2 separate regions of the Homo sapiens genome follow, and region 2 is linked to region 1. A link means that fine-mapping ties the variant in region 1 to the expression of a gene that starts in the linked region. Tissue or cell type: cerebellum. Region 1 holds a variant in brackets; the other region holds the start of a gene. All regions are shown on one strand. Distances are from middle to middle.

The links. PIP is the estimated chance that this variant, and not a neighbour inherited with it, causes the effect.
Region 2: it holds the start of CACNG5, and the variant in region 1 is the best candidate, but not a certain one, in a credible set for the expression of CACNG5 in cerebellum (GTEx, PIP 0.86).

Annotation. Positions count from the first base shown.
Region 1 is chr17:66,760,855-66,769,453 of GRCh38, forward strand. All of the region lies in intron 13 of PRKCA (protein kinase C alpha), which reads left to right. Among named protein-coding and RNA genes, the nearest start is that of MIR634, 22 kb to the right of the region's middle. The variant G/C (reference allele first, on the strand shown) is at 3,539.
Region 2 is chr17:66,830,379-66,837,171 of GRCh38, forward strand. CACNG5 (calcium voltage-gated channel auxiliary subunit gamma 5) reads left to right here and starts at 4,739. Exons shown (of 6, transcript NM_145811.3): 1 at 4,739-4,872. RefSeq lists enhancers at 1-57, 1-416.

The DNA.
Region 1 (8,599 bases):
AGTATAAACAATTGCAAACACTGCTTTCATTTGATCCTCTTCTGACCTTTTTTGGGAGGGGTACTTAGGCTGTTCTGCTGTTTGCTTCCCATTCTTACAGGGAGGTAAAAAAGGGTGGCTACTCTAAATAGATTTTAAAGCACTTTCATTGGTGTAATTACTATTAGAGAGATCATTTTCTGTTTTCTCCAATTGTACATAGAGCCACAATTTTTGTCTAAATAGAAAATACATAGGCTGGGCGCAGTGGCTCACACCTGTAATCCCAACACTTTGGGAGGCCGAGGTGGGCGGATCACAAGGTCAGGAGATTGAGACCATCCTGGCCAACATGGTGAAACTCAGTCTCTACTAAAAATACAAAAATTAGCCGGGTGTGGTGGCGTGTGCCTGTGGTCCTAGCTACTCAGGAGCCTGAGGCAGGAGAATCACTTGAACTCGGGAGGCAGAGGTTGCAGTGAGCCAAGATCACGCCACTGCACTCCAGCCTGGTGACAGAGCAAGACTCCGTCTCAAAAAAAAAAAAAGATACATAGTTTGGACTCTAGACTCTTTGTTTTTAATCTTGTGGTAATTTTCTTTATTTTTCTTTACTTATTTATTTGGCGGTGGTTGTTGTTGAGATGGAGTCTCGCTCTGTTGCCCAGGCTAAAGTGCAGTGGCACGATCTTGGCTCACTGCAACCTCTACCTCCCAGGTTCAAGCAATTCTCATGCCCCAGCCTCCCGAGCAGCTGGGATTACAGGCACTTACCACCACACCCGGCTAATTTTTGGACAGGCTGGTCTTGAACTCCTGACCTCAAGTAATCTGCCCACCTCGGCCTCCCAAAGTGCTGGGATTACAAATGTGAGCCACTGTGCCCGGCCAGTTTTCTTTTTTTTTTATATAATGCACTTTGTCCAAGGATTTCAAATATTGTAGTCATTTCCCATGTGACATAGTAAGATCCTTGATCTTGGATATCGTATCTTAGCGTATTTGTCTGTTATCCCAGTTAGTTTGGTAATCTGTGATACCTAGCAGAGTGCCCAACCCATAGAAATGTACAGTCAGCCATACTCAGTGGGAGTGAGCAAAGGAGAGGGCCAAGGAGGGTGTCCTAATACCATAAGAAAACAGAGAAGCCTGAAGTTTTGCTGCTCCAGTAAAAAATCAATTTAATTGCCTAAGGGGAGATTTTTAAAAATCTGTTTGATTCACTTCTGTAACTGATTCACTTCTGATTTACTATGTCTGGTACACAGTAAATTAATATTTGCTGAAAGAACGAATGGAAGGTTTATTGTCGCTTAAGAATTTTCAGGTGCCAACAATCATTTGAGTGTTTAACATATACCAAAATGTTTCCTCTGTCCCCCTCTGAGCCAAGTTTAGTTTATTTCCTTGAATAACTTTCACCCACCTGCTTATTTCTGGTAGGCCAGTTCTTATTTCTAATGTTAGGCAGTATGGAGTTATGTATACTCAGCTGCAGTAAGCACATTTTAATACACATAATGCCATTTAATCCCCACCACCTGCTTGTCAGGTGGGTGCTGAAATCCCAAGATCACAGCTGAGGAAATGGAGGCTCAGAGAGGCTAACCAACTTGCCCAAAGTCACACAGCTCCTGGCCTCCAGCAGTTGGGTTCGGAGCTCTCTCACCTCATTCTGCTTCCCGCTTGTATTCTGAGCTTTGGCTATGCCATTGGAAAGGAGTTTAATTAGGAAGTATCTCGATTGAGAGCTGGGGGTGTTTCACTTCTCCCCTGCTGCGGGGCTTTCTGTTTATGACGCTCTGGTCTCTGTTCTGATGCTTTAGAAAGAGGACACGGTCAGGAGACCTGAGGCCTCTCTCTTCCTGACCTTGCTGTTAACCAGCCCAATGACCTCAGCAAGCCACTGTGCCACTTTGAGCCTCAGGAGCCTCTTCAGAACCCTGAAAACACCTTTTTTATTTTATTTTAATTTGTTTTAGACGGAGTCTCACTCTCTTACCCAGGCCGGAGTGCAGTGCATCATGGCTCCCTGCAACCTCTACCTCCCGGGTTCAAGCGATTCTCCTGCCTCAGCCTCCCAAGTAGCTGGAATCACAGGCATGTGCCACCACGTCCAGCTGATTTTTGTATTTTTAGTAGAGACAGAGTTTCACCATGTTGGCCAGGCTGGTCTTGAACTCCTGACCTCAAGTGATCCTATCGCCTTGGCCTCCCAAAGTGCTGGGATTACAGGCATGAGCCACTGTGCCCAGCTTGAAAACATTTTTCTAAATCATCCCTCCAGACTTAGCAATCCAGCAATTCTAACAGCCCTTTTGATTTTGCACTTTAGAGGTAGGCAGTGTCTATGGAGTGGTCTTGGATCAGATCCACTACTTCTCCAACACAACCTTGTGTCTGCCCCGTGCCTGAGGTCCTGGTGCTGGGTACAGAAGTGGATGGCCCAGCCCCAACCAGGGAGAAGTCTGGGTTGAGTAGGGGCAGACAGTCTCAGTAGACATGACAAAGGCTCCAGGAGTTGTGGGTCCCACAGTAGCAAGTGGAGGAGACAGTTATCAAACCCAAGATCCCAGCTGTCAGATCAGAACACCCAGAAAACGTTCAGGCCTGTCTTCTTTCTTTCCAAATGGTGCTGTTTGGACGCGTCAGACAGTGCTTTGACCATGTTACATGTAAAGAGTGCCTCTGGGGTCCTGTGTTCTATCCTTGGGAATGGATGATGTTTTTCAAAACAAATGTAATTTTTCCATCAAAATGTTTTTGTTTTTTGAAAAAGAAAGGATATTCTTTGTTTCCCTGAAACAGTAAAAGGACTTGAGTGTGTTTTATGCATAAAGGCCACCGTTATTTTGTAATGACAGCTTGGGAAGAGGCTTTTGTGGCCAGGCCTTTTATTTAAGATTGGGCTCTAGGGGTTTGCTGTATACATACAGCACAAAAATGAAGAGTGAAATCCCAGTTCAAGTGCAGCCGAGAACAGGAGAGTGAATCTCCACACACGTACTTTATAGGTCCGTGGGTTCCTTCAAGAAAAAGCCTTTAGAGCCAAGAGCTCCTGAGTGAAGGAGGCATCTTGGCTGTTTTGATCCTGTTAAGCATTTGGGCCCCTTTTCAGCAGGACTCATGTAAACTGGGCGAGTACCCACCATAGCTGTCTAGGGAACCCCACTGGATCAAGGCCTTCAGTATAGAAAAAGGGTCAGAAGTATGGATGCCAAAGCCGATGACCAGGGTTCTAATCCAAGCGTTGCTGCTTGCAAGCTCTGTAACATTGGACAAGCTACTGTGTCTCTCTGTACCTTATTTCCTCACCTTTGCAATGGGCCTTATGAGGATTAGGTGAGCTTCAGAGCTAAAGAGCCTGGCTCTCGGCACATGCCTACTGTGGTGATGTTGGTTACAGCTACTGTCAATATTGCCAGTGGCATCTAAAACCTTCCTGTGCCGTCCTCAAGCTCTCCCAGGCTGGAGATTTCAGAAGTTAGAAAGCTCCTGGAGTCCCATCCTCTCTGGGAGGCATTTGAATGTGAAGCCCTGGTAGAGAGTGGAAGGCTGG[G/C]TGGCCTTGGAGTGACATCCTTCCAGCTGCTGCAGGCCCTTGGCCTTGTACAAGACAAGAAGCTACCCCCTGGTCCCTTTCATGCCCTGGTCCTGTGCCCGGGCTGGAAGAAAGCTCATTCATATCTCACTTTTACAAGACAGGCAGCCATTTGTAACATCCTGACATTCCCCCAAGCAGTTGGCTCTTGTAAGTATAATAATAATGATCTAAATGACAAATAGCAGTAAAATTGAATGACAGTGGCCTTGTTGGGGGTCTGTCTTTGAAGCCACAGCTCAACCTCCCATGTGCAGCAGGGAAATCCGCCAGCTCTAGCCCTTCTTGCCAACTCTGCCTCTCCTTTTGTGAGTTTCTCCATTATGGGAAACCAGATTGGCGTCACAGCCCCTTGCCTGGGGCTTCAGGATATCAGGCAGCCCTGGGCTTGGCTGTAAGCCCACATTGGCCCACAAGTGCCAGAGACACCTGCTCCTATCCCCATAGGGGACAGACAAGAGAGTCTCCTCATCCATTCCATGGTCTCTGAGCCTGGTCCTCAGCCCAAAGCTGGCTCCCTAGACCAATGAGAGCCAGAGAACCAGAATGGGCCATAGGAGCCGGTGGAATTCAGAGGGTCTCAGCCAGCACTGTCCAACAAAAGTAAAATACAAGCCGAAACTGCGTTTAGCAGCCAAGTTTTTAACAAGTTGGAAAGGAAACAGATGAAGTTAATTTATTAATAAAAACATTTAATGAAGGCCAGGCATGGTGGCTCACGCCTGTAATCCCAGCGCTTTGGGAGGCCGAGGCAGGCAGATCACCTGAGATCAGGAGTTCAAGACCATCCTGGCCAACATGGTGAAACCCCATCTCTACAAAAATATAAAAATTAGCCAGGCATAATGATGGGTGCCTATAATCCCAGCTACTCGGGAGACTGAGGCGGGAGAATCGCTTGAACCTGGGAGGCAGAGGTTGCAGTGAGCCGAGATCGTGTCATCGTGTCACTGCATTCCGGCCTGGTCGACAGAGCAAGACTTTGTCTATATATATATATATATATATATATATATATATATATCCATATATATACATATTTGTCCATATATATATATTTGTCTTTATATATATATGTCTTTATATTTGTCTTTATATATATATGTCTTTATATATATATGTCTTTATATATATATATATATGAGCTATTTTGCATTTTTTATACTAAGTCTTCAAAATATGATGTGGATTTCACACCTACAGCACATCTCAGTTTGGACTAGCCACATTTCATCTGCTCAGAAACCACAAGTGGCCAGTGGCCACTGTATTGGATAGTGGCTCTAGACAGCTGAATAGGGACAGTATAGCCAACATCCTAAGTCGTGTGTATCTGAATGTTTATCTTCCAGTGGGGCTCTCTAACACTATTTTCCCTTTTACAGTGAGGCTTTGGTTAACCAGAGGTATTTATTAACCACAACTGCTCATTGAGAGAAAGATATGCTTTATTCCAAAAATGAATTTGCAGCGGTGAGGTTGTGCCCTATACCTGTAACTGAGATCTTCAGGACCTCCCGTGTTATCTGGTACACAACAAGCCAAAGGTGACACGTTTCTCTGGGAAAAAATGCTCTGGCTAGATTCTAAACCCCATCCTATTGTTACAATTGAAGGCACTGCAGTGTTCAGAGTGACTTTGTAATCTTGGCCCAGTGGCTGAGCAGGCGGGCTCTATGCGGCTGATGAGGATGAGTGCTGTCACGAGAAAAACGAGCCTTGGCGCTTGGCATTCTGCTTTTGGTAAGCCTTGGAGGAAGGAGAGCGTGTTATCAGAAGGAGTCATGGGAATTTAATGCCTTGGAAATAGAAAATGAAGAGCCAGCTGGGAGCCAACTTGTTGTAGAACTTAAAGCAAAACCAATCAGGTGGCCATGGCCTTTAGGATTCATGAATCCTTCTGACCAGAAACAGGGCTCCCACACCCTTGCCTGTTGATGGCTTTCCAATTCGGACATCAGTTTCCATCACCCAAGCAGAGAGATGTGGTTGGCAAGACTGCTCAGATATTTGTAGAATATAGGATAGGAAACAAAGTATAACCTCCTTTGTTCAGCCCTCACTGATCCTTTACCTGATACACACAGCAACACTGTTGCTTCAGCCCTGCCACTGTTAAAAACAAACTCACTTTGGGAGGCCAAGGCAGGTGGATCACCTGAGGTCAGGAGTTCGAGACCAGTCTGGGCAACATGGCAAAACCCTGTCTCTACTAAAAATACAAAAATTAGCTGGGCATGGTGGTGGGAGTCTATAATTCCAGCTACTCAGGAGGCTGGGGCAGAAGAATTGCTTGAACCCGGGAGGCAGAGGTTGCAGTGAGCAGAGATTGCACCATTGCACTCCAGCCTGGGTAACAAAAGCGAAACTCCTTCTCAAAAAAAAAAAAAAAAAAATTTAATGAAACACCAAGTAACATAACATACACAGATGGTGGGGACTGGCTTTAACCAAGTTAAACATAGTTTAACATAGTTACAAGAGCAAATTTTATTCAAGTGCTTTTGAAATATAGTTACTTAAAACAACTGAAATGATGCTTTCCAATAAATCATCTTAATCCTCTGGGCCCTTTGATTAATATTTCATTAATCCCAGTATCAATGTATTTGAAAATACATTGAAAAGATAAAATTATATCTTTAAAATAAATGTGTCAGTATTCAGTTCCACATATTAATTGATTGGCTTTGAGCAAGTCTTTAAACTTAGAGAACCTATTTTCTCCCTATAAAATGAGAATATACAGTAAGACCTCACTTAACATTATCGATAGGTTCTTGGAAACTGTGACTTCAAGTGAAATGATGTATAACAAAACTAGGTTTTTCTCCCTCATCAGCATTATAAGGAAATGATGTTATTTGAGGACCTGCTGTATGTTGTTTTGCTTAAAATCACAGTTTCCAAGAACTTACTGCTGGTACGGAGTGAAGACGGACTGTAATAACAACTCTGCATCATCAGATTACACAAGATGTGTGTAGTGGGTACAACCTGCATTTGGTGCCCAGAAGGTGGATTTTCACTCACCCAAAGAGAATTTCTGTTGCCCTTCTACTTGGTCAGGACAGGATTTGTAGAAAAGCTGAGATTGTGTGATTCACTTACATGAAGGAGGAAGTTTTTAGAATGGACAACTCTTGCTGCCACAGCAATCCCTGAAATCTCAGTGGCTTAACACAACCAATATTTCCTTACTGCTCACACACAGTCTGATGCAAATCAGGCAACCCTCCTCCATCTTGCAACTGAGCCATCTGGAACAGGTGGCCCCTAGAATCACAGTGACAGGAGGCAAATGGGCTTTTAATTGCCTCAACCCAAAAGGGCAACATCACTTCCTCTCCCTGTCCATTGGCCAGAACTAGTCATGTGGCTCCAAAGCAGAGGAGATTATGAAATGTAGGGGAGCACATGGGCTGTTTGGGGAATACTATCTGATGCTGAAGGTTTGCTCCTATCATTCTAATTTATTCTCTGATATGGCAATATGATAGCCTATTAAGCGTCTTCCCACTGACTTGTTTTGTTTTGTTTTGAGATGAAGTCTTACTCTGTTGCCCAGTCTAGAGTACAGTGGCACAATCTCAGCTCGCTGTAAACTCTGCCTCCCATTTTCCTGCCTCAGCCTCCTGAGTAGCTGGGATTACAGGTGTGTGCCACCGGACCCAGCTAATTTTTGTATTTTTAGTAGAGACAGAGTTTCACCATGTTGGCCACTCCGGTCCCAAACTCCTGACCTCAAGTGATCCGCCCGCCTGGGCCGCCCAAAGTGCTGGGATTACAAGCGTGAGCCACCATGCCCAGCCATTTTTTTTTTTTTTTTTGGGGGGGAGAGATTAGGGTCTTGCTATGTTGCCCAAGCTGGTCTCCAATTCCTGGACTCAAGTGATCCTCTTGCCTCGGCCTCCCGAGCTACTGGGATTACAGGCATGAGCCACTGTGCCTTTCCCCTATTCATTTTTAAGTTTGCTTTCTGGGGTAGGTTTATCTTTATCATTAACCTAGGTTTTACACCACTGGAATTGAAGTGAAATTATCCCCCCACTGCAATTAGTCCATTTTCACACTGCTATAAAGAACTACCTGATACTGGGTAATTTCCGAAGTAAAGAAGCTTAACAAGAAGCATGACTAGGAGGTCTCAGGAAACTTACAATCATGGCGGAAGGCAGAGGGGAAGTAAGCATGTCTTACCATGGCGGAGCAGGGGAGAGAGAGAGAGACAACAAGGCGGGAAGCGCCAAACACTTTTAAACCATCAGATCTTGTGAGAATTCACTCACTATCATGGAGAACAGCAAGGGGAAATCCGCCCCCATGAGCCAATCACCTCCCTCCAGGACCTTCCCCCAACAGGTGGGGATTGCAATTTGAGATGAGATTTGGGTGGGGACACGATATGGTTTATGGACACAAACCATATTGGGAGGTAAGTAGTGGCTTTCAGGAGTTGGCCGAGCAGTTTTAATGGATTTTTTTCCTTTGCTTAAGGGTGTAGGTTAAGTGTACTAAGCATGTGCTAAGTGGAGAATGGATAAGCAGACTTGATACTGCCACTATTCTCAAGGAAATGGCTTTGTTTTTGTTAGTTTGAAATGAGAATCCAGTGTATAAATCAGCTCTTGATCTTTTAGACTGACGGGCTGTGGAAGGGACAACTCATTTCAGTTAAAATAGGCATTTCCAGGCTGGGCATAGTGGCTGATACCTGTAATCCCAACACACCTATGCAACAAAGCAAAATCCTGTCTCTAAAAAAATTGTTAAAAAATTATCTGGGTGTGGTGGTGCATGCCTGTGGTCCCAGCTACTTAGGAGGCTGGGTGGGAGGATTGCTTGAGCCCAGGAGTTGAGGCTGCATTGAGCTATGATTATGCCACTGCCTTCCAGCCTGGGCAGCAGAGCAAGACACTGTCTCAAAAAAAAAAAAAAATAGTATTGCCAAATAGCCAGTATGAATCAGATCTTAATTTTCCTGTGTTTAATACTTTGCTTTGGATTGAACTGTTAGAGAAG
Region 2 (6,793 bases), 69 kb after region 1:
AAAAGAGGGAAACACAGGACTGAGTTCATGAGCAAGCAGGAGCAGGTGAGTGAACAATCTCATCTGGAGGCTTAGCACACCCAAAAGCACAGCCCCACCTTCTAGGTCCCCACCAACCAGCTCGGACAGGAAGTGCCATTTGGTGGCCCAGCCTCCTGCGTGAAGCAGAATGGACAATCAGCCTCTTGCTTTCTGAAGCACAGTATTCCTTGGGCCTCCTTGCCAGCGACTGTCACCTCCGCCTTCCCTGTTTGCTCAGTCATCCAGGCTACATGGCTCTGACACAGCTCCCTGGGTCCCCTGCTGAGACCAACTTTTGCATGCTTAAGCCCTGACAGCTGGCCTAAAGATTCCAGCTGTTGTGCCCACTCACAGCATGGGTGATGCTGATGTGGATGGAGCCTCAATGTGCCATTCTCCTTTGAGCACTAGAATTTGGCCATATGTAGGGCAAATTACCTTTTTAATCCTCCATAGCCTTATCTGGAAATAGGGGCTAGCAATTGTCCTAGCTCAGAGGGCTGTTGTGAAAATTAAATGTCTTAACACATGGTAAGCACTTAGCAGAGTGCGTGGCATGTAATTGATATTAGCTGTAGTGGGGATTAATATTATTATTATTAGCCAATAAATATTATTATTTATAGGGGCAACTCCACAGTGAGCTCAATTCTTCTTGCTCTGACCTTGACCAGGTTTTTCTGCCTACACCCCCTCCCAACTTCATGGGGCCCTCTTCCCTCTCCCCCAGCCTCCTGACATACACACGTATGCACACTCTGCACATTTTCAGATACTGCTCATCTCAAACTTGACCTGGATCTGCTGAGAAGCTCTGGTCTCCTCCATCCCCAACACGATTGAAGGTGCCTTGATCGGTCTCGTATTGATCAGTCTGGTATTGATCGTCCCACATCAGTGTTGATGACCACTTAGATCTGGAGTTTGGAATTCCATCTCTGCTCTACACTGGAAGCAACATCTGTTTGCTCAAATAAACCAGTCCGTGTGTACTAGAAGATACATACAGCTCATGCTATGTGGCTGCCAGAGGTCAGTAAGGAATCTCTACTCCTCGTCATCACGTGGGAGTTCAGAGTGACAGAGTGCCATCTTGACAACTGTCTCCACAATCCCAAAGGCAGAGAGACGAGCATGGCAAAGCACTCAGTGATTCCGAAAGCTTCCACCTGGAAGTGACACATGTCACCACCTCCACCCCCAAGGGACCAGAAGGAGGCTGCCTGGCTGGAAGACATTTCCTCCTCCTAGACATAACTGGGCCTCTTCCTTGTCATCCACACAGGCACATTCTGCAAATAATGTGCACATGGATGTGTGTTTCTCATTAAGATCTAATGAGTGAAGCCATCAGATTTGTTCAGACTGGCCCAGGATTCAGAGAGAGAGCTGAGGTTTTATGAAACTCCCCTACCAATGGGGAATCCATGAATTATTAAAAGGATAGAAAAAGAGACCCAGGGTGGAAGGGCTGCTCCATTATTCATCAGGCCTGGAGTCCCCAAATCCCCAAGCACAGCTGTTGGCTTTTACACCTACAGCATTTTCCCATTATGTCTACAGTCAGCCTTTCAAACACGCCGTATTGGCAGCCTCCGAGCAGTGCTCCCGCCCACGTCACCCACTGCCTGTCTCATTATCTGAACCAGTCCGCGGCCCAACCGTGGGACACAGATGTTGGTGTTGCTCACCCACCTTCACGTCCCAGGCTCCCTGATCACAGACCTGAGGGCCTGAGGGCCAAGCTCCTTACAAGAACTGGGAGCCTCTCCCACTCTGGCCCCAGTTGTCTCTTCAGTTTTGTCTCCCTCCATTTCCCATGCCCACCCTACCTCAGACCATTTGCCTTTCCCTGAATGTAATTTCATATTCTCAGGCCTTCGTCTAGGATGACCCCTTTGCCTGAAACTCCCTTCCCAGCCCTCTGTCTACCTGGTGAATTTCTATTTATCATTTACGGCCAGATCAGAGGAAGGGAAACTAACTTTTGCTGAGAGCCCCCAATGTGTCAGACCCTTGTGCAAACATGATCTCGCTTTCGCAAACCAGTGAGGTTGGCGTTATCACCAGCATCAGAGACATAATTTTATGGAGTCCGGTGCAACAATTAAGATGTAGCCCCTTGTTGAAAACTGATTAAGAATTTCGAGATGGCAAAATCAGATCATCAAACCAGGCACAGAGCTTTCCTAAGAGCAAGGCTTTGAGAACCATGAAGCCAGCTTTGGTTATCGAGAAGTGAACGAAAGCTCAGAGAGGTTAAGTAACTTGTCCAAGGTCACACAGCTAGTTGGGGCAGAGCCACGTTGAAGACCTCATTCCATCAGATCCAAATTGCTGTTTTTCAACCACCCATGTTGTGGGGACTTCCCCACTTGCCTTGGGCAGAATGACTGGGGAGGAGGCTTTGAGCACCCCTGGACACTATCTTCCTTTTTTTTTTTTTTTTTTTTTTTTTGAGATGGAGTCTTGCTCTGTCACCCAGGCTGGAGTGCAGTGGCGCAATCTCGGCTCACTGCAAGCTCTGCCTCCCAGGTTCATGCCATTCTCCTGCCTCAGCCTCCCGAGTAGCTGGGACTACAGGCGCCTGCCACCATGCCTGACTAATTTTTTTGTGTGTTTTTTAGTAGAGATGGGGTTTCACCATGTTAGCCAGGGTGGTCTTGATCTCCCGACCTCATGATCTGCCTGCCTTGGCCTCCCTAAGTGCTGGGATCACAGGCATGAGCCACCGCGCCCGGCCACTAGCTTCCCTTTTGAAGGGTGTTTTCTGCAACCAATTGATCTGTTATTTCTCCATAAGCATTGCAAGATGATCCAGAGAATAGGGTCACACAGATCAAAAAGGGGGCCTATCTAGGGGGCAAGTGGACATTCTGGGATTGTTCAATTAACCCACAAGGGAGGACATTCCCTCTTCCACCCACCCCTTTCCTCACACCCAACACCAGGCAGTCTGCTCACCCCCACTCCATACACTTACTCTTCAATGGCTGGAGGACATGGCGACGGCCCGCAGAGGTGACCCACAGGGCATGGATCCCAGGCCAGCCTCTCTGGCCTTTGCTGGGAAAATGACCTGCAGACTTTGCAAAAGGCACATCTCCTGGGTGCTTTGCCCGTTTTCATCTTTTCATTTCATTGATCCAGCCACCTCTGAGGTTTTCTTTGGTGGTTTTCTCCTTGACAGCTTTAGTCTTGGGGAGATGTGTCCAACTTCCAGTCATTCATTCAGCAAATACAATGTGCCTACTATGCGTCAGACTTTCTCCTTTTAAGGGGCTCCCAGCATAGTTAGGGAGATTGACAGTAAATTCATCATTGCCATACTGGTGAGAGCTGTGCAAGAGGCTCCTGGGCCCAGAGACGAAGAAGAAGAAATCCATTCTTGGATTTCCATCAGGGTATTCTGGGGGATAGAGAAGAACACTCTTGGGGTAGGTGGGAAAAGGGAGAAAAAGCGGAAAACTGCATAGGCCTAAAATGCTGTGAATAGACACGTGGTGTATCCTTTCCAAAAACCTTCAGTTGTCCCAACTCCACCTGGCCCCATTCACATGTGACAAAGTCCTCCCATGTCAGGAGACCTCAGCAACATAGATGCTTCTATAAAAGTTTCTGCCCTACAGTTTTAAACTAATATGTTCACTGCTGATGTCTCATTATTTAGCAACCAACTTTGCCCCCAAATATTTCCACATGCCACATCTTTGACCCCCTCTTGGTCTGCAGGGATTTTACAGGCCTTTGAGGGGAAGCTGCTGGTCTGTGAGCATCTGCACAAGTGTGCCGGACAAAGATATCGGTCAGGCTGCCATTTCAAAGCAATAAAAGATATGTGGCTATGCAGGCCAGGAAGAGTTAGCCCTTGGGTTCCCCTTCCAACCTGGCTGACCACACTGGCTCCAGCTGCCACTTTCAAATTAGTCATAGATTAACAAACATCTATTGAGCACCTATTGGGTGTCCAGGACCCAGAGACTAAAGGAGACATAGAACCTAAGAAAGGAAGAAATGTTTTATTGTTAGTTGCCACCATTTATTGGACATATATTACCATTTTACTGTTAAGAGGGACAAACACTTTGCTTAAGGCCACACAGTACAAAAGCAGAGTGGGGCTTTAAAGGCTCAGATTCTGCACTTAGACAGGCCTGAGCTGCAGTCCTGGCTCTGCCATTTTCCAGCTGTGTGTCCTCAGACTCCTCACTTAAGCGCCCTGTGCCTCAGTCTTCTCATCTGTAAAATGGGATTCGTGTGAGAATTAAATGACTTAATACATGTGAAGCTCATTGAACGCTTACACTAGTAAGTGCTCAATAAATACTAGCTGGCATTGTTGTTCTATCACCATCATCATCATCATCATCATCATCATCATCCTTATTTAAAAGCAGCAGCAACGGCAGAGGCTGCAGCCCCAGCTGCTGGAATTTGAAGGTGAGTCTGACTCCAGGCAGGGTCTCCCAGCCCTATGCGGACTCTGAAAGCCTCTCCTCTCCCACGCCGGCCCCCAACTCTTCACCTGCCACCCCCACAAGGGTGCTCACCCCAGAGGTGCTCACCTCCCGGGCTGGGAGACCGCATCTGACCGGTCCCAAACCCCGCCTGCAGCTGGCAGCGCCGGGGTGGGGAGGCCCCGCCCTCGGCCCCGCCCCCTGCCCGCCCCTCCCTCTCGGGGTCCGGGGCGCGAGCTGCGGCGGCGGCGGCCACGGTCATTGGCGCCGAGCGGTTCCGGCTGACTGGACGGGGCGGGCGTCCCGGGCAGCCTAGCGCGGTACCTCCCGCCCCGCGCGCCCAGCCGGCGAGGGACATTGGACCAGGGTCGGGGGTCGCGGCCGCTCCAGCGAGGTAAGAGCCGGGAAGACCGGGAGAGACCACCTCTTCCATCCTGGGGGGGTCCCTGGGGGACGGTCTCCCACCGGTGCTGGGCCGCGGCGCCGGGCTGCGCCCCCATGACAGCCCAGCCAGGGGCAGGGGCTGGAGAGCCCTAGCGATCGCGCACCCTGGAAGGGGCAGTGTGGTGGGGAGCGCGGGCGTGTGTATGCGCGTGTGCGTGTGTCTGTCTGTCCATCTGTCTGTCCCAAGGATGTATCGGGGGAGATGATGACGCCCCCTCTTTGCAGTCGCTTCTAGGCAATTTACCCATGCCAAAGCTGAGGGCAGACTTTTCCACGACGGACTTGAATGGGGCTGGCAGATTATTATCCGGATAATGCAGGAAGGGATAAGCCCACCACCACCTGTTGAGCTGGGCTGTCGGCCTATGCGGGTCCAACTCCCCGCTTATCACAGCCTGCAGGGTGGCCTCATTTCTCCAGCTCGTGGGACCCGGGGCTTCCTTCTCCCGCCTGTGAGAAGGGTTGATAGGAGGAGGTGTCCCTGCCAGGAGCCACTGAGCAGAGATGGACTCGCGGGGGTGATCAGGGTGGTGCTATGGGGACCCCACCGCAGGTGCTGGGCGTGAGGTGTCAACCACCCAGGCACACCCCAAATTTGGATTTCCCCAATCACTCCAAAACCTCTCATTGTGATTCCCCGATCTTTGCTCTCATCCTAATTTGGCAGTTGATGAAGATGCAGCTCGTTAAAAATGTTAAAGTGAAATCAAATTATCACTTCCTAGGACTGAAAATGATTTGAGAAATAATTCCGGGAGCCTGGCTGGGGAGGAAAGAAGCTCATATTCTGACTAGCTTCTCCAGGGCTGCCCCGGGGCTGCCTCCGGTACCTGCCAGGCACGCCGGTGGTTAAGGAAGCCCTTGTTCCCAGAAAGGAAGGGATTCACCCACTTTGCACTGGATTATCAGTGACTGGGTTAGAGCAGGACCCAGGACAGGATCCCCAAGTGGGAGCTGTCTCAGTTTGACAGATGTCACATACAAGCTGTCACCGAGGCTGGCTTCTGCTCCACATCCATCCTGGGGAACACAAGATGGGGCTTCCCCTCCCAGCCACCTCACACCCATTCCCCTCATTTCCACAAACCTGAAGTCTTGATCAATTAACAGCCAGGATTGCCTGGGTGTGGGTGTGGGACCTTGATTGGCTCTGATGTCCTGGATTCAGAGTATCTCAGGACCACAGGCATCTCAGTGGCAGGTTGGTGGCACCTCTTTGCAGACCCTGTAGCCAGCCCCTCATGCCGAAGTCTCCTGCCTGCCTGAGAAGCCCTAGATCTGCCTCACTTCTCTGCTAACGCAGCCCCTGGAGGTAGCTGGGGGACACCTCATCTCAGGGCCAGGTCCCCAGGGTGCCTAACAGGGTGAAATCTGTGCTTGTGCCTGAGACCTCCCCACCCCCAAACCTCCTCTCTCTTGTCATGTGGAAGGCAGTGGATGTGCTGAGGGGCTGGGTAGTCCAGTTCAACGGAAGATAGAGGTGGCCCTGCTGTGGCTGGGGCTGTTGGTGATGTGAGAACCCCAGCATCCTGGCTGGCTGCACCCCAGGCCCCACAAGCCAACAGCACACTTGAGGGAGCTCAGCCATTCTCAGGCTTGTCAGCTGGGGCTCTGTGACTTGGTGCAGGGGGAGATTGGCTGAATTGTTCACGCTTGTTTGGAAGAGACTGGCCTTAGGTTGTTGTGGAAAACGTCGGCTCCAAACCCTGCTAGGTTCCTGACTGTGTGACACTGGCCAACTTACAGAATGCTTGGAGGCTCAGCCTCCTCACCTGTAAGATGGGTCTGGCAGGGGGTTTTGAGAATCAAGTAAGGTCATGAATGAATGACAGTGTCCATTTTACTGGAGGTGGTTCTGGGCTGGTGTTGTG